Linked DNA regions of Homo sapiens. Changing the gene in region 3 together with the main gene of any one other region gives a genetic interaction. Each region holds a gene or a part of one and is shown on either strand. Other genes may lie near its edges. The genes, in order: PGD, MTRES1, MRPL19 and GATB.

Region 1 (5,001 bases), on a different chromosome or scaffold from region 3:
TAAATGTGGTTTCTTGTGTTATTCTAGTCTTTTTTTTTAAAGAAAAATCTTTCTGCCAATGGGGATAATGGCTCCATGTGGCCGAGGTGAGACTAAGAATCTGGAGAAAGAGCATCAGTCTGATGTAGCTTTTATTGAGTAAAGGAAAAAGGGAATTCAGCCGCATGATACAGAGGTTCCAGTTGATCAGAGTGCGCAAACACCCTTCCTGTCTGCGTGATGGGAACCGCACCAGCACACGGGGCACGCGGAAGCCACTGCCGCAAGGAGATGGTTCCCACTCTCACGCACATGAGCAGCTCCTGGTCAGTCCCAAGAGGCAAGGGCAGAGGGCATGGTGGCTCTCACAGAGCTACTTTACAAATAAACTGTGTGTCTTCCTCAGGAGTCTCTTACAACACTTTTAAAAAACTGAACAGAAAATAGGGCAAAGGGCCAGGTGGCAGTGCCATGAGGCACATGGAATGTCCTGGTCTGTGGAATCGTGGAGGGTGACAGGAGCAGCATGATCAGGCATTGTATGACGAGGATGACACGGTGCCACCATGGCCTGTCCAGTTGGTGTGGATAAACTGCCCTGGTTTGGCCAAGAGTTCATAGGTGTGAGCCCCGAAGTAATCCCGCTGAGCCTAGGAAACGAGAGAGTAGGTTGGTCAGGACAGTCCATGGCGCACGCCCCCGAGGGGCCAGCCAGGTTAATCCCTGCTCCACAGGCTTACCTGGATGAGGCTGGCTGGAAGCATCTCATGTCTGTACCCGTCATAGAAGGAGAGGGCAGTGGTAAAACAGGGCATGGGAATGCCAGCCTGGACCCCAGTGCTGACTGCCCGCCGCCAGGAGTCCTGAGCACAAAACGCACGGCCAGAGATTAGTGATCTGCCCCTGGTGACGCGGATAGATTTTCATTCATATCAATGTGGGTAAATGAAAAACTGATGGTTAGGCCAGGCGCGGTGGCTCACGCCTGTCATCCCAGCACTTTGGAAGGCTGAGGTGGGCGGATCACGAGGTCAGGAGTTCAAGACCAGTCTAGCCAACATGGTGAAACCCCATCTCTACTAAAAATACAAAAAAAAAAAAAAAATTAGCCAGGTATGTTGGCACACCTGTAGTCCCAGCTACTTAGGAAGGCTGGGGCAGGAGAATCGCTTGAACCCAGGAGGCGGAGGTTGCAGTGAGCCAAGATCATGCCACTGTACTCCAGCCTGGGTGACAGAGCGAGACTCTGTCTCAAAAAAACAAAAAACCAAAAAAAAAAAACAAAAAACCAAACATCACAACTGATGGCCCCAGGGAGGTAGAGTAACCATGGCACCAGCCCTAGGCTACATACCTGGCAGTTTTCAACAGCTGACTTAAAGAAGTCGTCCAGTAGGAGGTTCTGAAGTTCCGGGTTTCGATCAAATGCATCCTTTATCTTTCCTAGGAATACACTGAAATAATCAAGGGGGGAAAAAAGCAATGAGTCTTTTTTTTTTTTTTTTTGAGACGGAGTCCCGCTTTGTCACCAGGCTGGAGTGGAGTGGCACGATCTCAGCTCACAGCAACCTCCACCTCCCAGGTTCAAGCGATTCTCCTGCCTCAGCCTCGCCAGTAGCTGGGATTACAGGCACGCACCACTACAACCGGCTAATTTTTGTATTTTTAGTAGAGACAGGGTTTCACCGTGTTAGCCAGGATGGTCTGGATCTCCTGACCTCGTGATCCGCCTGCCTCGGCCTCCCAAAACGCTGGGATTACAGGTGTGAGCCACCGCGCCCGGCCAAATGCAATGAATCTTAACTCTAACAGGGAAGTAAGCTGGAAGCCGATGTATACCCTAGTGAAACAAAGTTACATTTCTCATTTCTTCAAGCTGTTAACCCTTTTCCTGTTTAGAAAAAAAGTGCAGCTCGCTGCCAGCGCTCATTTAATTTTACATAAACACGCTTTTTGAGGCTGAAGAAAATCTGACGATTTTCAATATGAAAATAAAATATAAAAACTATTCTTGGCGTTATTTCTAAAGAGAACTAATATTAGAATCATCTGAATCACCAGAATCATCTACTTCAGAAAAATCAGATTCATCAAATGAATCTTCAGCCAACATGAGAACGATGTAACGTCATGTGTAGAAATGCTACGTTTTCTATGATTTGGCATTTTCAATGAAAATACAGAGCAAAATTCCCAAGAGGCAAGGCCAGAGGGCACGATAGTTCACAGAAGTACTTTAAAAGGTGTAGTGTAGTAGGTGTAATGCGGAGCCGGGCGCAGTGGCTCACGCCTGTAATCCCAGCACTTTGGGAGGCTGAGGCGGGCAGATCACCCAAGGCAAGGAGTTCGAGACCAGCCTGGCTAACATGGTGAAACCCTGTTTCCACTACAAATACAAAAGAATTAGCCGGACATGGTGGCGTGCCCTTGTAATCCCAGTTACTTAGGACGCTGAGGCAGGAGAATCACTTGAACCCGGGAGGCAGAGGTTGCAGTGAGTCAAGATCGCATCATGGCACTCCAGTTTGGGCAATAAGAGCGAAACTTGGTCTCAAAAGAAAAAAAAAGGTGTAGTGTGGACAATCTAGTTACAGCAACTGAGGTACAGTGAAGAAGGGAACCACATAATCTAAGCCTATCTTGTGCCAGTGTCCAGTGATGGGGCTAAGTGCCCATCCCTGGAAACTGCTCAAGCTAAGTGTCCTAAGATCGCACTTCTGCACAGCCGTGTGAGTCCTTCCCGTCGGACCCTGGGCTGCCTCTCACTTACCTTCTAATGATGCAGCCCCCTCTCCACATCAGGGCGATGCCACCATAATTGAGAGTCCAGCCAAACTCGGTGGCTGCCTGCCTTAGCAGCATAAAGCCTTGAGCGTAAGAGATGATCTTGGAAGCGTAGAGTGCCTAAAGAGTGACACAGAGACCTACTAGGATTGCCATTAGGAGAGTGACCGCCTTATGTCTACCAGTCTTATTCTCATCAGCAGTGGAGATCCCAGAAGGGCCAATATTCTAGGAAAACATTGTAAGTCAAGATCCAAGTCAAGGCTGAACTTCATTCCACCTGCCATCCTGTGGCCTCGAGTGTTCTCCCACCACAACCCCCACCCCCACTGCCTTCCGCAGGACCAACAAAGACCACTGCCAGGGACTGTGTCCCACCTTCCGAATGTCCTCCAGGAATGATTTCTTATCACCATCAAACTGGAACTTCTGGGGACCCTTCAGCTTTTTGCTAGCTTGAATTCTCTCATCCTTCAGAGATGATAAGCACCGAGCAAAGACAGCTTCTCCTACATGGGGAGATCGGGAAGAGGAAACAGATTACTGTCAGGCCTCTGAGCCCAAGCTAAACTATCATATCCCCTGTGACCTGCATGTATACATCCAGATGGCCTGAAGCAAGTGAAGAATCACAAAAGAAGTGAAAATGGCTGGTTCCTGCCTTTACTGATGACATTCCACCATTGTGATTTGTTCCTGCCCCACCTTAACTGAGCGATTAACCTTGTGACATTCCTTCTCCTGGCTCAGAACCTCCCCAACTGAGCACCTTGTGACCCCTCGGCCCTGCCCGTAAGAGAAAAACCCCCTTTGACTGTAATTTTCCACTACCTGCCCAAATCCTATAAAATGGCCCCACCCCTATCTCCCTTCGCTGACTCTTCGGACTCAACCTGCCTGCACCCAGGTGATTAAAAAGCTTTATTGCTCACACAAAGCCTGTTTGGTGGTCTTTTCACACGGATGCGCATGAAAATTACCAAAGTTCGCACAGCAACCAGAAGAAAGGTGGAGCAGGAAAGTCTGTTTATACAAAGAGCTGAAAGTTTCAACCTTAGGCCACAAAAGTTGACATGGATCGGAAGGAACTTTTATAAGAAGCTCTAAACAGTTAATTTGATAACTAAAACTCTTAAGACAATCTTCCAATACAAACATGAGTATTCAATCACAAAGATTAACATGAAATTCAAAAGGGAGTTTTGAGGGAAAATGAAGAGATAGAAACCACTGTTATGGCTGGGCAAGGTGGCTAACACCTGTAATCCCAGCACTTTGGCAGGCTGAGGTGGGAGGATCACTTGAGCCCAGGAGTTCAAGGCTACAGTGAGCCATGATCACACCACTGCTCTCCAGCCTGGGCAACACAGTGAGACCCTGTCTCTAAAACCAGTAAAATAAAATAAAAACCACTGTTATGTAGAATACTCAGTGTTGGTCCATGAGTAAAATTTCAAATTCAATTTAGAGGACCTTAATTTTTTTTTTTGAAGATTTTACATTGATAAGTCACATTTACGGACTCACCTCTCAAAAAAATGTTAGGTTTTTATATTTTACGGTTTTCAGTATAGCCGTAATCATTCAAGTTTAACCACTTTACTTCATTTGAATTAAAAAGTCAATGTAGTATTTTAATATTAAGACATTTAGTATTTTCAGAAAGTATTCCTTATAAAAGACTTGCTCAACTGACAACTTATAGTTAGAATAAATGACTCTTTAACCACTTTTTCCCCCATAGACAAAATGAAGTAAAATCTCAGGGAACTAACAGAGGACTTTATTTCTGAGGAAAGAGGAGCAGCTATGGCTTGAGACTGCTAACCCTACTCCAAACACACAAAAGCAGCTACCTCTCTCCTGGCCCAAATGCACACACAGGATGACTTAGCATTTCTAGAAGGAAGCTTTGTAAGATGACTGGTGCAACAGGCTATGAGGCAAACCCTTCCTGTTAGAGGGGGAGAGGGCAGCTGGAAGACTTCCCTGTTAGTTCACAAATAATGATGGCTCCCAGCAGGGGGTGGGCCCAGCCACCCTGGGGGAAGAGGTATATGGATCCACAGGAGGAGAGTAGGATTCTGAGATCCTAATACTTACACATATACTTGAGTCCGTGATGAATAAATTGCTCCTAGCTATTGGCCCCTCCCTCCTCACCTATGTTATGGCTCAGATCGGCTAAAAGCAGCCAACTTCCTTCTATACAGCACGGAACTGTAGAAACCACCGACT
Region 2 (6,599 bases), on a different chromosome or scaffold from region 3:
AAGGATGAATGAGGATGAGCATTCAAGGATGCTCAGGCATTTTTTTATTTTTTTGAGATGGAGTCTTGCACTGTCACCCGGGCTGGTGTGCAGTGCTCAGCTCACTGCAACCTCCGCCTCCTGGGTTCAAGCAATTCTCCCGCCTCAGCCTCCCCAGTAACTGGGACTACAGGCACACGGCACCACGCCTGGCTAATTTTTGCATCTTTAGCAGAGATGGGGTTTCACTATGTTGGCCAGGCTGGTCTCGAACTCCTAACCTTGTAATCCGCCTGCCTCGGCCTCCCAAAGTGCTGGAATTACAGGCGTGATCCACTGCACCCAGCTCAGGCATTCTTGCTCTGAGCTCCAGCTGATGCAGGGTTCAACCTCCCCTGGACCTGCTTTTACATGTGTGCCCTGGCAGTCAGTTTACTTGCCCACATTCCACTTAAATGGCAGTTCCCTGATGACAAGAATTGCGTGTTTTACCAAGGCCTAGCCAGGCACTTGGCATATGTGAGGAAATGAATCAACGTGGGGGTGGCTATAGTAAAGGAGAGGATGCTGTTACTTTTGTCTCATTCAAAAGCAAGCAATTACACAAACCTCTTGCCTCCACTCCTCCCCAGCTACCACCTCTTTTCTTGCTCCTCTTTACCATAAAACTTCTCAAAACAGTTGTCTAACTCTCCTCAATTCCACTCCTTTCATTTTCTAAATCCAAAAGGTCATGTTAGTCCTCATCTTAATTGACTCCTCAGCAGCACTTGAAAAAACCGATCACGCCTCTCTTCTTCACTTGGTCGCCAAGACACCTTACTCTTGGTTTTCTTCCTGTCTCTCCTGTGGCTGCTGCTTCTCAAGACTCCTCTGCTGGCCGGACACGGTGGCTCATGCCTGTAATCCCAGCACTTTGGGAGGCCGAGGTGGGTGGATCACCTGAGGTCGGGAGTTCGAGACCAGCCTGACCAACATGGAGAAACCCTGTCTCTACTACTAATACAAAAATTAGCTGAATGTGGTGGCACGTGCCTGTAATCCCAGCTACTCAGTAGGATGAGGCACGAGAACCGCTTGAACCCGGGAGGCAGAGGTTGCAGTGAGCTGAGATTGCGCCATTGCACTCCAGCCTGGACAACAAGAGTGAGACGTCTCAAAAAAAAAAAATAGCTGGGCACGATGGCAGGCATCTGTAATCCTAGCTACTCAGGAGGTTGAGGCAGGAGAATCACTTGAACCTGGGAGGCGGAGGCTGCAGTGAGCCGAAGCCATTGCACTCCAGCCTGGGCAACAGGAGCGAAACTCTATCTCAAAAAAAAAAAAAAGAAAAGACTCCTTTGCTGCCTCCTTCTCTTCTCCTTTTTTCTTTTTTTTTCTTTTTTTTTTTTTTGAGACAGGGTCTTCCTCTGTTGCCCAGGCTGGAATGCAGTGGGTGGCGCGATCTTGGCTCACTGCAACCTCTGCCTCCCCAGTTCAAGCCATAGTCTCCCACCTCAGCCTCCAGAGTAGCTGGGATTACAGGCGCCCACCACCACACCCGGCCACTTTTTATATTTTTAGTAGACACAGGGTTTCACCACCTTGGCCAGGCTGGTCTGGAAATCCTGACCTCAAGTGACCCGCCCACCTCAGCCTCCCAAAGTGCTAGGATTACAGGCCTGAGCCACTGTGCCCGGCCCTCCCTGATATCTTAAAGTTGGAGCGGCCCAGGGCTCTATCTTTGGTCCTCTTCTCTTCTACATTCACTTTATCCAGCTCAGCTCTTAAATGTACCCAATTAGTTCTTACAAATGCATTATCAAGACATCAATCATTTCTGTGGCTTTAAATACCACCTATATGCCAACCACACCCTAATCTATATCCCCATTCCAGAACTTTCTCCCAAATTCCAGACTCGTACATCTGTGCAGAAACGAGTTAACATAACAGGCCTGAGACTGCTATCCTTAGAATGCCTGCTTGCAAAGTTGGCCCTTGGCTAGTGTCTCAGAACTTGAACTTCACGAGGGTTCCCACAATTCCCACCTGGATAAGAGTGGCTCACTGTGCTGGAAACTGTACAATGTGATTCTAAACACCTGCTTTTTTTCTGGGCGGCGGAAATTTTGGCACATTCTAGGCAGACAGTGCCTATGTGACTTTTTATTGGAAAAATGAGCTCTACAAGCTTTCCTGATAGATCTCTCACGTCTTGTCATAATTTGATGCTGCAAGAATTAAGCATACCCCATGTGACTCCACTAGGAGAGGACTCTTAGAAGACTGCACCGGGTTTCCTCCAGACTGTGTCCCATGCATCTTTTCCCTTTGCTTATTTTGCTTTGTATCCTTTTGCTATAATAAATCACAGCTGTGAGTATGACTACGTGCTGAGTCTTTTGAGTCCTCTTAGTGAATCAATGAACCTGGGGACCTGCAACACAATAGCTGCCTATTTGACACCTCCACGTGGGCACATAATAAAGTCATTCATACGATGTCACTCCTTTCCTCAAATCCCTACCAAAGCACTCAGAGAACAGCAAAGTCTCTACGATGGTCTAAAGGCTCTATAGGATCTGGTGCTCCCTCAACCCCCATTTCCTCTCCAACCTCATCTGCCAATTTGACTCTTGCAAATTCAGCTTCAGCAACACTGGCATCCTCCCCTTAATTAAGCACTTACCATGTGCCAAGCACTAATCTGGGCACTAGGAATTCAGCAGAGGAAAAAAATACGAAGATTCCTATTCTTGTAGAGTTTATAGTCTAGTAGGGGAAACAGGTAGACAAAAAAAAAAACACCCTGTAAATTATATGATAGCTGGTGGTTAATGCACTGGGGGAAGAAAGTGGAGCAGGGTAAGGGGGATTGAGAGGGCAAGATGAGGTCAGGCAGGTGGCTCACGCCTATAATCCCAGCACTTTGGGAGGCCAAGGCAGGAGACTCGCTTGTGTCCAAGAGTTTGAGATCAGCCTGGGCAACACAGTGAGATCTAAAATAAAAATAGTATGGGCGCGGTGGCTCATGCCTGTAATTCCAGTACTTGGGGAGGCTGAGGCGGGCGGATCACTTGAGGCCAGGAGTTCAAGACCAGCCTGGTCAACATGGTGAAACCTCGTCTCTACTAAAAATACAAAAATTAGCCAAGCGTGGTGGTGCACACCTGTAGTCACAGCTATTTGGGAGGCTGAGGCTGAAGAATCGCTTGAACCTGGGAGGGGGAGGCTGCAGTGAGCCGAGTTCACACCAGTGCATTCTAGCCTCGGCGACAGAGCGAGTGTCAAAAAAAAAAACAACAAAACAGGCCGGGCGCGGTGGCTCACGCCTGTAATCCCAGCACTGTCGGAGGCTTAGGCGTGCGGATCAGGAAGTCAGGAAATCGAGACCATCCTGGCTAACACGGTGAAACCCCGTCTCTACTAAAAATACAAAAAATTAGCCGGGCGTGGTGGCAGGCGCCTGTAGTCCCAGCTACTCGGGAGGCTGAGGCGGGAGAATGGCGTGAACCCGGGAGGCGGAGCTTGCAGTGAGCAGAGATCGCGCCACTGCACTCCAGCCTGGGCGACAGAGCGAGACTGCGTCTCAAAAAAAAAAAAAATAGCCGGGTGTGGCGGTGTGCGCCTGTAGTCCCAGCTGCTGGGGAGGCTGAGGCAGGAGAATGGCGTGAACCTGGGAGGCGGAGCTTGCAGTGAGCCGAGATCCCGCCATTGCACTCCAGCCTGGGCGACAGAGCAAGACTCCGTCTCAAAAAAACAAAACAAAACAAAACAAAACAACACCCTGTGGAATAAAAATTGATCAGGAGGACGGGTGCATTCGAATGAATCAGGAAAAGAACACGCAATGATGGACCCTGGGAAGTGACCTGATGGAAGTTCATTTTAAAAGATCTCTTTGGCGTTGGTGTGGGATGAGTGGAGAGATGATCACGGCAGAATCCCATAGGAGGTTTTGGGTGACATCTTCAGGAGAGGTATACAATCTGAACTAACCGAAGACTGTAAGAAAAGCAGTGTCTGTAAAAAAAGCAGCGCTGACTTTGACCTGCTTGACGCCAGGAAACGCTCCACATTCCTGAGCCCGTTCACCGCTCCGTAAGATGGAGAAACTGGTCTAAACGCTTTGAAGTCTAATGCAGCTAAAGATCCTTCCCTTTACTTGGAGACCTCGGAGGCTGTGGGCTGAGACAGGGTCGGATTCCTCTCGCTCCCTCCCCACCCCCGCGGGCAGTGCACCTTCCTGGGTCCCCAAGGTCAAAGGAAATGGACAACTGCGTCCCCGGGTTCGCAGTCTGCATTCGGAGCCAGCAGGAGCGACAGGAGGCAGGAACGGAAGGCTTCGCCGCGCTCAATTACCACAGTCCCTGCGCAGCCCTGAGCTCGCGGGGCGTCCCGAGGCTGGCAGGACACGGGACACTCACGGGGAGACCCGGCGGGAGCGTGGGCGGGGCGGAGAGGCGAAGTGACAGGGGGCGCGGGCAGGGGGCCCGGCGCGGCGCGCCAGCAGAGGCGCACTCACCTGTACGTCAGGCCCTCTCGTCCCTCCCCGCGGCCGCGCGGACTGCAGGCCTCCAGGCTACCCCTATCTGCGCCCCGCCCCTTCCGCCGGCGCCGGCGCAGTGAGAGCGGGTCGGGCGGGGCGCGAGGCCAGGGCGGCAGCGAAGCAGCGACCCCTGCTGGAGGCCGCGTCTTGGAGGACTGCGCGGGAAGTAGGCTCGGGGCACACCATTCTCCCGGGTTCACGCCATTCTCCTGCCTCAGCCTCCTGAGTAGCTGGGACTACAGGCGCCCACCACCACGCCCGGCTAATTTTTTTGTGTTTTTAGCAGAGACAGGGTTTCACCGTTTTAGCCAGGATGGTCTCGATCTCCCGCCCTCGTGATCCGCTCTCCTCGGCCTCCCAAAGTGCTGGGATTACAGGCGTGAGCCACCGCGCCCGGCCATCTTAATTCTTTTTTCTTTTTTTTTTTTTTTTGAAACCGAGTCTCACTCTTGCCCAGGCTGGAGTGCAGCGGCGTAATCTCAGCTCACTGCGACCTCCGCCTCCCGGGTTCAAGCGATTGTCGTTCCTCAGTCTCCTAAGTAGCTGGGACTACAGGCGTGAGCCACCATGACCGGCTAATCATCTTAATTATTAATGAAGTGATCCTTTCTCTGGGACCACTAACCCCTTTGAACATTTTTTTTTTTGACAGGGTCTCACTCTGTTGCCCGGAGTGCAATGGTGCGATCTCGGCTCACTGCAACCTCTGCTACCCAGGCTCAAGCTGTTCTCCCCACCTCAGCCTCCCCAGTACCTGGGACTCCAGGTGTGTGCCACCACGGCCTGCTAATTTTTGTTTTGTTTTGTTTTGTTTGTAGAGATGGGGTTTCGCCATATTGCCCAGGCTGGGACTCAAGAGAAGCGATCTTCCAGCCTCAGCCTCTTAAAGTGCTGGGATTACAGGTGTAAGCCACCGAGCCCGCCCTCTTTGAACATCTCCAAGAGATATAGGCGTTGTTTCCAGAAAAATGTGCAAATACGTCAGACTCGCAGTTTAAGGAAACATCTTTTCAAGACCAACGCAATTTACACGTGAGCCAATTCCCCTTTCCCTCCCAACCAACTATCCATCCATTCGTCCATCCATCCATCCATCCATCCATCCATCCCTCTCTCATTAGGTCTGTCTGTGGAGAACTCTGACTCATACACCAAACAAGATGTCACCCTGCAACATTCTAACAAAACTTCTAGTCAAAGTCACAGATGACCTCTGCAATGTAAATCCAAAGGTCTGGTCTCATTCCTCAACTTACTTGAGTTATAGGATACCCCATTGGTTTCACCTACCTCACTTGCCACTTAATCTTCTTCCCTGTTTTTTCTTTTGTTTTGTTTTGTTTTTTTGTTTTTGAGAATGAGGCCTGCTCTGGCCCCCAGGCTGGTGTGCAATGGCATGATCTCTGCTCACTGCAACCTTCACTCTCGGGTTCAAGCGATTCTCCTGCCTCAGCCTCCTTAGTAGTTGGGACTACAGGTACGCACCACCATGCCCGGCTAATTTTTGTAGTTTTAATAGAGACAGGGTTTCACCAATATTGGCCAGGCTTGTCTCAAACTCCTGACCTCAAGTGATCCACCTGCCTTGGCATCTCAAAGTGCTGGGATTACAGGCATGAGCCACCACTCCCAGCCAGCTGTTTTTTCATTACATCCTTAGAATGCCAAAGAGTAAGTGCCCCATACTTAGACCTCTAATCTTTTTCCTTTTTATCTATCCTAGTTCCCCAGTCGATCTCCAACAATTTCGTGGCTTTAAATATTATCTATATATGGACGATCCTCAAATTTGTATTGCGAGCCGAGATCATTCTCTTGCATTCAAGACTACAACTGCCTACTTAACATCTTCACTTGGAAATCTAACGGAAATCTCAAACTTGATAGGACCAAAACCCAGATCCGGGTCTCAATGCGTTCCTCCCACAGCATTCCTTATTTCAGTTAATGAGTCTTCCACCCTTCCTGTTACTTAGGTCAGATATCTTAGAGATACACTCAATTTCTCCCTTTCTGTCTCACCTGGGATTAGAGGCGTGCACCACCACACCTAGCTAATTTTTGTATTTTTAGTAGAGATGGGGTTTTA
Region 3 (6,027 bases):
AACAAAATTATACGAAACAATATATGTTGCCCAGACATACATGCATATGAAAAGTAAAAAGAAATGTAAGGGGGGCCTTCTGAAACTTTGCCAAACAGTCAAACCTAACTTTACCAGTATTGGTACCAGTTGATATTATGTGTCTCCTGATGTGACAGAATAAGTTGTTCACATCATCTCCCTGTAATATTCTTACTAAAATTATTTAACCTTAGTCTAGGCATGTGGAAACAATCCAGAATCCAGAGATGAGATAGTAGGCCTTGACTGTTCAAAAAAGTTAATGTTATAAAAATACAAAGTTGGAAAAAAGTCCTAGTCTGAGAGACTAATGACCAAATATGTGTGAAGCTTGATTGTATTTTGAATTGGGCAACGAATAGATGTAAAATACCTTCCCAGGATAATGACATACATTTGAGTATGAACTCTGTATTAGACCAAGCTTGTCCAACCCACAGCCCAGGACAGCTTTAAATGTGGCCCAACACAAATCTGTAAACTTTCTTAAAACATATGAGATTTTTTTTGTGCCTTTTTTTTTTAAGCTTACCAGCTATTGTTGGTGTCTTTTATGTGTGGCTCAAGATAATTCCTCCAGTGTGTCCCAGGGAAGCCAGATGATTGGATACCTTTGTATTAGATTATGTTATCAAATTAATGCTGACTTTTATAGGTGTCAGAAGGGTATCGTGATAATATAGGAGCAAGTCCTTATTCTTAGCATAAGCCTTCTAAATTATTGAGGGATGAAATGCCTTGCTGTTCCATTTTTTTGAGACAGAGCCTTGCTTTGTCATCCAGGCTGGAGTGCAGTGGCATGATCTTGGCTCTGCAACTCCTACTCCTGGGCCCCTCCCTACTCAGTCTCCCAAGTGGCTGGGACTACAGGTGCCCGCCACCATGCCTGGCTATTTTAAAAATTTTTTTGTTGTAGAATGAGGTCTCACTATGTTGCCTAGGCTGGTCTGGAACTCCTGGGCTCAAACGATCTACCCTCCTCGGCCTCCCAAGTGTTGGGATAACAGACGTAAGCTACCACACCTGGCTGACATTTTCAAATGGTTCAGAAAAAAATGATATGTGTATATAAAGCAAATATAGCAAAATTTTAGCAGTTGGTAAAAGTGGATGAAAGATCTACAGGTGTTCATTGTATTACTATTTTTTGGTAGGCTTTAAAATTTTCAAAGTAGAAAATTGAGGAAGAGAAAGAAATTCATGGGAATAATCACCAAATTTAGGATAGTAATGAACTATCCTAAATACACAGGGGCTTCCACAATATTGATAATTTATTTCTTGAGGTGGGTGGTAAAGACATGAATATTCATTGTACTGTCATTTATACTTTTTATGTAGATTAAATATTTCATAATGAGCTTAAAATCAGTTAAAGAAGAAAAAAAGAAGATTATTATTTTTTAAGCAAAAGGATTTCACCTTTGTAAGACTTACACAATTTTCACATAGCTTCATTTCTACAATCACAACAATCCTGAGGTAAACAGGCAGGGTCTAATCATTCTCTTTTTACAGAGGGAGAACCAGCAACTTAGGGAAATCAAAACGGGGACACTAACAGGATTTCTGTGGAAATTTAAGTAAATGAGAATTTATGGTGAATTTTTTATTCTAAAACGAATACCTCACCTTGGCCAAAATGGGACATTACCCAAGGTCCCCTACTAGGCCAGAGGAGAAAAGGAAGGACTTACCTCCTACAGAGGCACAAACAAGGCAGACTAGGACCCAGCAGTTGCCTAAGGCCCAAGGGTCTCCAGTTAGGAGAATGTGAAATGCAGGGATGTGAGACTGGCCTAAGGTATAGGAAGAGCGGTAAACAGAAGAGAAGAGACGAGGAGGGGGAAAAGCAAGAATTATTAAACGTGGTCAAGGAGCGAAGAGCACTATGAAGCCTCAGGATTTCTTCAAGGGATACTGCTGTGCCAGGTCTAGAGGGCAGAAAGATACAACCACGAGACCCCAGGACTACCAAGCTGATGGGATTACCTAGCCTCTGGACAGCACCTTCTGATTGGAAGCAAGGAAGCACACTAGAAAGGCTGCAGTACAGAAGGCTCAGAGACAGTCAGTAGGGAGTAGAAGGGCCTCTGCTGTTCTGGGAAGATTCTTACAGCATAAACAAGCTCTTACTGTGCCTAAGAGAAAGGGAGAGGGAGGCAAGGAATGTATCATGGCCTTAAGAACTTTCTAGAGGTTCATATTTATTGGCATTTGACCTAGAGTCCTTGCCATGGGCAAGGTGCATCCCTGGGCCATGGATAGGAAAATCAGCATCCTACTTTCTCTTCAGTTCGATCTGTTAATCCACCAACCCAAATCCCTCCCACCCGCACCTGTCATCCAAGGAAGAGAAAATGGTTCAGGGACACGATGTGCTGCAGCTGTGTCTCTGGATTTGTAGGTCTCTCCTCGACTTTTCAGCTCCTACACGATTCCTTGGGGCAGGTGACCAGTGAATGACACCGCATATGTACCTGGCTTAAAGTTACTGACTCGCTGCCACTTGGAGACCTAGCTGTCCTCTGGACTCATCATTGCAATGATTCCATCAAAGGAAGAGCTAGTGCAGTCATATACCATCTCAGTTACTCTTCGTCTGTAGATAGGTGTTACAGTTGTCAGAACCTTCATATTCAAACTGGTCTATAGTCTTGACCAGCAAACACAGCCAACAAGCCTGCAGATGCCCCAGGTCCTTCAGCACCATCTCCAGGGCCATCTTCTCTGATCAGGAAGATCATTTTAAAAGTCAATTTATAATTAGTGATTTATATGTTGATGTCTTTTCTGACATAATTTATTATAGCATGTATAGCTCAGTGTGAGGCCTGTAGTAATGGTTATAGGCTTTGGAGACTGACCAACATACCTACATTTAAATCTTGATTTGACAGATTTATAGCTAATGTAGCAATGGGTTAGTTATTTACCTTTTTCAAGCTTCAGTTTCTTGCTCTGTAAAAAGGAGATGACACCAAACCCACATGGTTGCTAGAAGGATTAATTTATGCTATAGATGTTTCATAAAGCTTTTAACAAAATACCAGGTGAGTACTCAGGAATTGTTAGCTATTTTCATGAGCATTAACAATTTTAGAAATAAGATTGACTTTTATTTAGACAATGAAGAATAAAATACATCAATATCATATTTAATTTCTTTGAAAAGCAACAATTTTTCTTCTAGCAGCCTTTTGAGTTTACTTTTAATTATTTATTTGTATTTTTTACAGGTTCTTGAGTCCTGAATTCATTCCTCGAAGGGGAAGAACAGATCCTCTGAAATTTCAAATAGAAAGAAAAGATATGTTAGAAAGGAGAAAAGTACTCCACATTCCAGAGTTCTATGTTGGTCAGTAAGAGCTGTATGTTTTTATTATTAGTAATTAGGATGGCTAGTTTGTGATTGGATGGTTAGTTTTCTTAAAAAGCAAAAGAAGATTGTTTTTTACATATCTGGGTTATGCTCATATGAAGTATTTATTCCTACATTAAAACATTTAGGAAGTTAAGTTATCTAGAAATGCTATTTGTTTGTTTCTGCATCTTATATAAAGTTTACTTCTCAGCTGGGTGTGCTGAAAAAAAAGTTCACTTCTCTTTTGAATTTGTAGGAAGTATTCTTCGTGTTACTACAGCTGACCCATATGCCAGTGGAAAAATCAGCCAGTTTCTGGGGATTTGCATTCAGAGATCAGGAAGAGGACTTGGAGCTACTTTCATCCTTAGGAATGTTATCGAAGGACAAGGTAAGTTTTATTTCATCATTTTCATTGTCTAGAAAATGTTATCTCAGGATTCCTTTTTGTTTCTGCATCCTGGGATAAGAAATCTGAAATTTGAAAGTAAAAGGAGACTCTGAGGGAAGATGTGGAGCCTGTGGCTTTAGAATGGATTGAGATTTGAAGTTAATGATTAAATATGGTTGATGGACTTCTTTCTCTTGAAGGCTTCTTATGTTATTGGAACAACAGTCATTAGAAGTAGACTTTGCAAACCATGGCAACATCAAAGAGGGGAATAAATTACTATAAAGCAGTATGGGGATATTTGTTTTAGGAGCAAATAACCCATGAGTAAAACTTTAAGACAAACCTTTAATGTCTTCATGAATTACTTGCTCCTAAAATGAATACCCACATTTTACTTTATGTTATGACACAAAACAAAATTATCACTGTCTTATATGACTTGGGAGGAATTTTAAAAAGGCAAAATTGTGTTTATATACTATGCCTAATAGAGGAACAAGGAGTAAAACTCTAGCAAGATTATTAATTAAAATGGCAGGAACAATTACGTTTATCAAGTTGTGTGCTTCATGAAGTTCCAACAACAAAGTATTCTTATTTTCAAAGAAATTGAAAATGTGAAAGCAGTTGCTGTCTTGCTTATTCTGTAATGACAGTGGGCTGTGCGTGCAGGAATTCAGCAGGACTTAATTGATTTGTGCCTTCAATCTGGTCAAATACTTGGAGAGGCCTTGTAATAGAAGTAAATGAGCATAGGAGTGAGTCATTTGATTTTCTTTAAGCATTAAGATAGTAATAGTTTCTACTCTACATGGTTCTAGCCAATCAACTGTGAGATACTGTATTTGAAGTACTGGACACAGAATACTCAAAAAGGATTAGCTCCCTCTTGCCATTCTCTGTAGTATGTCTGACTGTTGTAACCTGCCTCAACCTTCCCCATCACTGCTTCCTGCATTAGTGTTTCCTTCTTGTTCGGTGGCTTTGTATACCATCTGTATAATGATAACTTCCAAATTTATAACTCCAGGACTGACCCTTTTTAAGTTCCAGATTTGCAACTATCTGCAACTATCTGATCAACACTCTATTTGGATGTCTTACCAGCATAAGTTGAAAGCAGAACTCTTTATTTCCCCTTGCAAGGTGTTCCATTCACAGTCTTTTCTATTTCCATAAATGGTACCACTCTGCCTACCCACTTACTTTCACACATGCAGTCAATCAAGTTTTCTTGGCACAGTCTCCAAAAAATATATCACAATTTTGCCTGTTCTTCCCTCTACATTGCTATCACCCTCATCCATGTCACCATCATCTGCTTGCATTTGTGCAGTCTCTCTGGTTTACATTTCTGGTGGCTTATTCTGTTCGTGCTGTTGTAACAAAATGCTACAGGCTGGGTAATTTAGAAAGAACAGAAATTTATTTCTCACAGTTCGGGAGGCTGGGAAATCTAAGTTCAAGGTGCTGGCAGGTTTTGTATTTGGTGAGGCCTCCTTCCCTGCATCCAAGATGGTGCCTTGTTGCTGTGTGCTCTGGAAGGGCCAAGCACTGTGCCCTCACATGGTGAAAGGTGGAAGGGCAAAAGGCAAAACTAGTTCTCTCCATCCCTTTAATCCACTAATCCTTAATCAAAGGAGCTTCTAACCAAAGTTGGAACTTAATATTTTACTTCTTTTGTACCATTAGTCTTATTACTCTTAACATGGAAGATTGATTTTTCTTCAAGTAATTGGGAGATAAAAAACGTGACATAGGGAAGAATTCAGACTTTCTCTGAAGTTACTACTATGAGAATTGAAGAGATATGTGACTCAACATATTTCTAGAAGCCATTTTTTTCTTTTTTAGACTATCATTCCAATTCAGACTTTCTAACTTTATATTTAAATGGATTTTAGCTTATTTCTATTTCTTTCAGTAATCTTTATCTTAAAAATTTCAAATTAACGGCACATTTTCTACATGCAAAACTTTGTGCTAATTCCTTTATGAAATGCTTTTACTGCAGTATGAAACATGTATAGGAACGTGGACTTAGATTGTAAGAATATGTTTTCTGTTCTATTTAGGTGTCGAGATTTGCTTTGAACTTTATAATCCTCGGGTCCAGGAGATTCAGGTGGTCAAATTAGAGAAACGGCTGGATGATAGCTTGCTATACTTACGAGATGCCCTTCCTGAATATAGCACTTTTGATGTGAATATGAAGCCAGTAGTACAAGAGCCTAACCAAAAAGTTCCT
Region 4 (6,027 bases), on a different chromosome or scaffold from region 3:
TCATCAGCATTTTTAAAAAATTTTGTTTTATTGCAGTAAGAACACTTAACATGAGATCTATCCTCTTAAACACATTTTAAGTGTACACTATCATAGACTACATAACTCATCAGCATTTAAACATTCCCAAGTCTCTCCAATATTAAGAAAGACATGACCAATAAATGTTTTCTCTTGATTCTATGTCTCCTTTCACTTGCTGCATTCTGTTGTCCTTCATAGTAAAACTTTTTGAAACAGTTGCCCACACTCACTTCTTCCTCCATGCCATGACATTTCTCAATCCACTGCCACCTACCTTCTGTTTCCATCACCCCACTCAAACTGTTCTTGCAAAGGATACCCTTCTTAATAAATCCAATGGGCACTTCCTAGTCCTCACTTTACTTGACCTCTCAGTAGCATCCAATGTTCTTGTACTCCCTCCTTCTCAAAACACTCACTTCCTTGGAGTTTCTGGCCCTGCACTCTCCTTACGTCTTCTTACCTCTTTGCAAATGGGATCCACACCCTTTATCAGGGCTTATATGGTACAGGCTATGCTTTCTGCTCTAGCCTCACCTCTTGCAATGCCCATATTCAAATTCTATGCTACAACACATGGAAAACGTTTCAGTTTCTAGAGCAAGCCACGTTGTTTTTCTTCTGGTCTTTGTACATCCTATTCACTTTCTACTTGGCCAATTTCATCAATTCCTTATATCTGTGTTGAATACTCTTCCTATGTGCTCCTCAAGCACCTTGTATTTCCACGACTAACATGTTTATTAAAAGGTAGTGCAACTGCCTGCTTGCTTGTTCATGCTCCATGTGGGCAACACCCATATCTATCGTCTACCAAGTTCAAAACTGTGTCACTAGAGCTACACAAGGGCTAGCATAACGTGGGCATCCAATATATGCCAGCTGAGTGAATGAAGACACAACCGACAGAGAAGAAGAATGAAATGTCTACAGAAAGACTATACATTATAACAATTGTTTTAAGTGACAATCCTAATTTTTTACTAAATCAAGAGCCAATACCATGTTGAACCAAAGAAACACTCCAAATAACTACAGATGGAAAAAAAAAAGCTCATAAGCCTTCTTTTTCGCAATAAAAGTAATGATTTCTAATTCAGAAATAATTTTATCCATATACTAGTTTTTACTGGTTTTCATTATTTACTTAATTCTCTATACATCTCTGAGGTGATGAGATACCCAGGTTAGTTTTTGTTGGCAGATCACTTAACTGGTGAAATCAAGGTTAAGTGACCAATTGTTATGTGTAGCATTTACTTTTGCTCTCACTGGCAACGTAACTGTGCACAATAACTCAGGAGAGCCTTTGTAAAGATAAAAGCCACCAATCATTATGGGTATGCTAGCAGGTAAGATTTACCTTACCTATTATTAAGAGCTTTTTAATTAATTACCTGTTATTACTTGTTAATTATCTGTTAATTAATAAGAGCACTTACTACATGCAATTACTGTTTTAAGTGTTTTAAAGGTACTGATTCATTTAATTCTCACACAAATCCAATGAGTCAATTATCTCCATTTTATAAGAAACTGATGCAAAGAAGATTAAGTAATCTACATGAAAATTCTATTCATCTCACTAGAATTTTTATCTTTAGCATTGTCCTATGTCACTAAAAGTCTATTATAAACATTATCAGTGGCTTCATAATGTTGTACTGTACTGATGTATTATAATTTACTCAATGATTCCCCCATCACTGAGAAACTGTGGTTACTTCCAATTTTCTACCTTTAAAAATAGATCTGCTATAGACATCTCTGCATATAAGTCTTTGCCCACATGTTTATTTTCCAAGGACAGATTCCTAAAAGAATTACTACGTCAATAAACATGTTGGGCGAATAAAGTAGTCAAATTGCCATTTTGCCTAATTAGCTGTTTTTTCTTGCTTTTATGCCTACAAAGTTTCTCCCCAACCCAAGGACAAACAAATATTCTCCTAGATATTTCTGGATTTAATTTGACATTTAACTTATATTATATATATATGAACTTTGTTTTGATGTGTGAAATGAGCGATACTTTTTCTCCAAATAGCTAACCAATTCCAAAACCATCAGTTAAATAACTTATCCTTTTCCCACTGATTTTTGCTTCTTCTTACATATATTTTCCCTTGTTGGTTTATTCTTTCGTCAGGAGGCAGTGAAACTTTGGGGAGAAAAGATAACAGGCTTAACACTGTAACTGCTGAATTTAAGATGTTTATGAATCATTCAGATGGAAATATATAGTAGGACACAATAGATATAGGTTTCTTGCCTAAAAGAGAGAGGGGAGCTTTATTTGAGGGTAAAAAGATTACTCAGGGGAACACAGGTAACAGAAGAATTGAGAGCCAAAGAATAGGGCATGGGAAACCAACATTTCAGGGCTGAGTGGCAGAACACAGCCATGTGAGAAGGCACAATCAGCCAGGTAGAGGGCGGGGAAGAAGCAGGAGAGAAGGGAGCAATATAAGCCCTGCGCAGAAAGAGTTTCAAGTATCATCATGAATCACACTTACACTTTGGTTTACTTGACCAAAACAATAACATAATGTTCTACTAAAATCCTCGGAAGCACAAACATATTCTCAAATTATTGGTTTCTTATGAATGGAGTTATAAGCAGAGTCTGGCTATCAGAGCATGTTTATACATCTCCATAGGGCTTAGGGGAAGGACAACTGTCTAAAGGTTTTAGTGTATTTTAAATCTATTTAGAGGTAAATCAAAAGATTTTGAAATGTTTTGAATGGCAATGCTTAATTCTGGGAGTTTGGGTATAATGTTGCTCACGTACAAAATGAGGTCCCTTAAAGGCAGAAACATTTCTGAAGAAGAGGTAGATCTCCTCTGTCTACAGAATAACCCATCTAGGCTACTTAAACCATAAGCGTTGTAGGCTCTGAAGAGGAAAACAAATCCTAGCTCATACAAAACTGTATTTCCAGACTTTGTCTGCCATTTAATTAATGTAAGCCAAGCTCTCAACACTCAAATGTCCCAAACACCTTCACTGTGTTATTGATATGCTTATCAGTGAACAAGCACCTTCTTTTTTGGTGCATGACAAGTTTTACAAAGCAATTAAAATGTTGGCATTTTAATTATTTTGAATTTTTCTAATTTGGTCTAATTTTTGACCAAATTTAGGTACAGCTGGAGAGTCTATATACAGAAAACATGCTTATCTGCAAATGGACCTGTTTCTAAAGTGAACTGTAATAAGTATGGCCTGATAGCCATCACATTCACAGCTGGAAAAACCTAGGATGAACTCAGAGCTTATGCCTAATCTCTTGATAATTAACTACAACATGGGAAAAAAATGTTTTGAATCTGGAAGGGAAAATGTAGAGGTGTTATGACAACTTGCCTTCCATTTTACAATAAATATTATTGTATCTCTACTATATCTGAATCTCTGCCCAAAAAAGATGTCATATATTTATAACCAAAATATTCACTCTTCTCAAATAAACAAAAAATCTTTCCATAGATAGATCTCTAAGTCAGAGAGAGAGAAAGAGGGCACACCTCCACATCTATCTTCTCCCAGAGGGACCCAGCAGCAAATCAAAGGTGATCCTTGATATGGTCTGCAGGGAAGGGAGTCCTCCATGACAGAAAATGCGATAAGAGAAAAGTTCCAAGACAAAGATGCTGCCCCAATACAACCAAAGCTGAGTGAGGCAGGCATACTGGAGGCACTGCCCAGAATCTTCCACTTTGGTCAGTGACTGAGAAAAGTATACCTCTGCAAGCCTGCCAGTGCTCAGTTCAACCAGCTTCCAGATTTTTTTTTTTTTTTTTTTTTTTGAGATGGAGTCTCGCTCTGTCGCCCAGGCTGGAGTGCAGTGGCGCGATCTCAGCTCACTGCAAGCTCTGCCTCCCAGGTTCACGCCATTCTCCTGCCTCAGCCTCCCCAGTAACTGGGACTACAGGAGCCCACCACCATGCCCGGCTAATTTTTTGCAGTTTACTATTAGTAGAGATGGGGTTTCACCGTGTTAGCCAGGATGGTCTCGATCTCCTGACCTTGTGATTCGCCCACCTTGGCCTTCCAAAGTGCTGGGATTACAGGCGTGAGCCACCGCGCCCGGCCTCAACCAGCTTCCACTCTTATTTAAATGTTTGAGAGCATGGAATTTACCCATGACAATGTCTGCCTCTCCCCACCTTTGTCACCACCATGGATACACATTTCCTCCAAAGATGGCAGGAAACCCCAAACACAGTTGATATTATAGGTCCTGGACAGACCATATGCTATTTATTAGCTAAAACATTTACTTGTTCCCTTCATACTTTTCTTAAAAATTCAACCAATTATATAAAAATATATGCCAAAAGTCTTGCTGATGAGTATACTGGGCCCAGTCATTCCATAGGATCAAGTAAAAATGAGTGGTTAAGTGAGTACAATAGTTAACTCACTGCATATTATGGCTGTTTTCTACATTATTGAGTGTTTCTTAATTTGCAATAACCACAATCATTACTGGCCTTACACTGTAAAATCATGTAATATACACTGCTTGCTTTGAGTTGACTCCTCCTCCTCCTTCATTTATCTGCCTAAATTTTATTGGGCTTCTCAAATAGCTCAGGCCACCACCTCTTCAGTAACCCTTCCTTAACCTAAAGTACCCCTACTTCAATTTCTCACAACAGTCCTTTCTTTTACTGAATTAGTTGTCCCTCCTCTGGGTTTCGAAATCATCCTCTGCATATTACCTTCAAAGAAGGAATCACACTGTTCTCTGTTTGTTTATAAGACACATCTCCCCTACTAGTTTTTGAACTCCTTAAAGGCAAGGATCATCTTTATGACCCAGCTCAAAGCCCAATGTCTGGTATTAGTAGACATGCTAAAATGTTTGTGAAGTGATGAATACATGTATGAATATATTCAGACTTAGAAACAGCATCACAGAGATGGGTCTTCAGAAAACATTTAATATATCCCGCTTCACCCAAAACTCCCTAAATAAGTATTTCCAAAGAGTTGTGTTATTATTAAAACAAGAAAATAATTTTCCATGTTCAATATAAAATAAACATTTTTCTAATGAAAATAGGATTAAATAAGAATCTTACCGGCAAAGTTCCAGGTAGAGATGCATCAAAAAAAGAAACCAAAGAATTTGGAGGTGCTGAAAAGCGAACTTGAGATCCAGAGAAGAGTTTAGAGTTGGAGGAAATCTGGGCATGAATTTCCAAACCTACCACAGCAGCCCATTTGTGTTCACTAAGAAGAAAGAGATAATGGTTAAGATGTATTATATTTGTCACCATGAATGAATTTCTATAAGTCTAAACCACAAATGTTAATTTCCTATATGTGTTTTAAACTTAATACAATGTTATATCCTCACATTAAAAATGTGTCATATTTTATCAGTGACTAAATAAAAAACAATTTAGAATAAGCGCCTACACTGAGATTGGCAAACTAAAATTCATTTACAACATGGCATCAGGAGGCTGATGATATAAACATGAAGGCTATAGAGAAAGGAACAATTTGGCGTCTTAAAACAATTTAGAAATGGGTATCAGGTGACAACTGCTTGGCTGACTTCAGTGAAAAGCGGCATTTAACAAATTAACTGTAACTTATCAAGTAATCACTCAGTAAATGATGAAAGCTGATCTTTCCCACATTATCTAGAATTAACATAAATGGCAACATTCTACTACTAGAGAAATAATGATAAATAGTTCCACGTCTCTTATTTAAAAAGGAAATTCTCAACCATGTTTTGGTTTGCATGTATAATAACCAGAGAGACACAGATACAATAAATCACCACTAAATGATACTCTTAAAAAAATTTTGCAAAACTCCACCACACTAAACCATCTGATGCGGCATATTTTTGGTCCCCCAAATCACTTTCAATTCCTGAGACCTAATTTCAGGTTACTTTTTTAATGCTTATTTGCTATCAAATCTAAGAAGCTGTTAAATGCTATAATAATCTCTCTTATCTGGTCAGTCCTACT

What was found.
Region 1: changes in MRPL19 (region 3) and PGD together harm fitness more than expected from each alone (negative genetic interaction), as found in Homo sapiens cells (one large-scale study listed by BioGRID).
Region 2: changes in MRPL19 (region 3) and MTRES1 together harm fitness more than expected from each alone (negative genetic interaction), as found in Homo sapiens cells (one large-scale study listed by BioGRID).
Region 4: changes in MRPL19 (region 3) and GATB together harm fitness less than expected from each alone (positive genetic interaction), as found in Homo sapiens cells (one large-scale study listed by BioGRID).

What each region holds. Positions count from the first base shown.
Region 1 is NC_000001.11:10,415,258-10,420,258, reverse strand, and holds part of PGD (6-phosphogluconate dehydrogenase, decarboxylating), read right to left. Parts: intron 3,273-5,001; coding exon 3,142-3,272; intron 2,884-3,141; coding exon 2,750-2,883; intron 1,434-2,749; coding exon 1,334-1,433; intron 843-1,333; coding exon 720-842; intron 630-719; coding exon 510-629; 3' UTR 1-509. UniProt on the Homo sapiens protein: Catalyzes the oxidative decarboxylation of 6-phosphogluconate to ribulose 5-phosphate and CO(2), with concomitant reduction of NADP to NADPH.
Region 2 is NC_000006.12:107,026,159-107,032,757, reverse strand, and holds the start of MTRES1 (mitochondrial transcription rescue factor 1), read right to left. Parts: upstream 4,560-6,599; 5' UTR 4,487-4,559; exon of another isoform or gene 3,912-4,486; coding exon of another isoform or gene 3,834-3,911; intron 2,749-3,833; exon of another isoform or gene 2,654-2,748; coding exon of another isoform or gene 2,651-2,653; intron 1-2,650. UniProt on the Homo sapiens protein: Mitochondrial RNA-binding protein involved in mitochondrial transcription regulation. Functions as a protective factor to maintain proper mitochondrial RNA level during stress.
Region 3 is NC_000002.12:75,648,882-75,654,908, forward strand, and holds part of MRPL19 (large ribosomal subunit protein bL19m), read left to right. Parts: intron 1-1,427; exon of another isoform or gene 1,428-2,767; intron 2,768-3,260; coding exon 3,261-3,379; intron 3,380-3,641; coding exon 3,642-3,776; intron 3,777-5,854; coding exon 5,855-6,027.
Region 4 is NC_000004.12:151,753,654-151,759,680, forward strand, and holds part of GATB (glutamyl-tRNA(Gln) amidotransferase subunit B, mitochondrial isoform 1 precursor), read right to left. Parts: intron 5,270-6,027; coding exon 5,119-5,269; intron 1-5,118. UniProt on the Homo sapiens protein: Allows the formation of correctly charged Gln-tRNA(Gln) through the transamidation of misacylated Glu-tRNA(Gln) in the mitochondria. The reaction takes place in the presence of glutamine and ATP through an activated gamma-phospho-Glu-tRNA(Gln).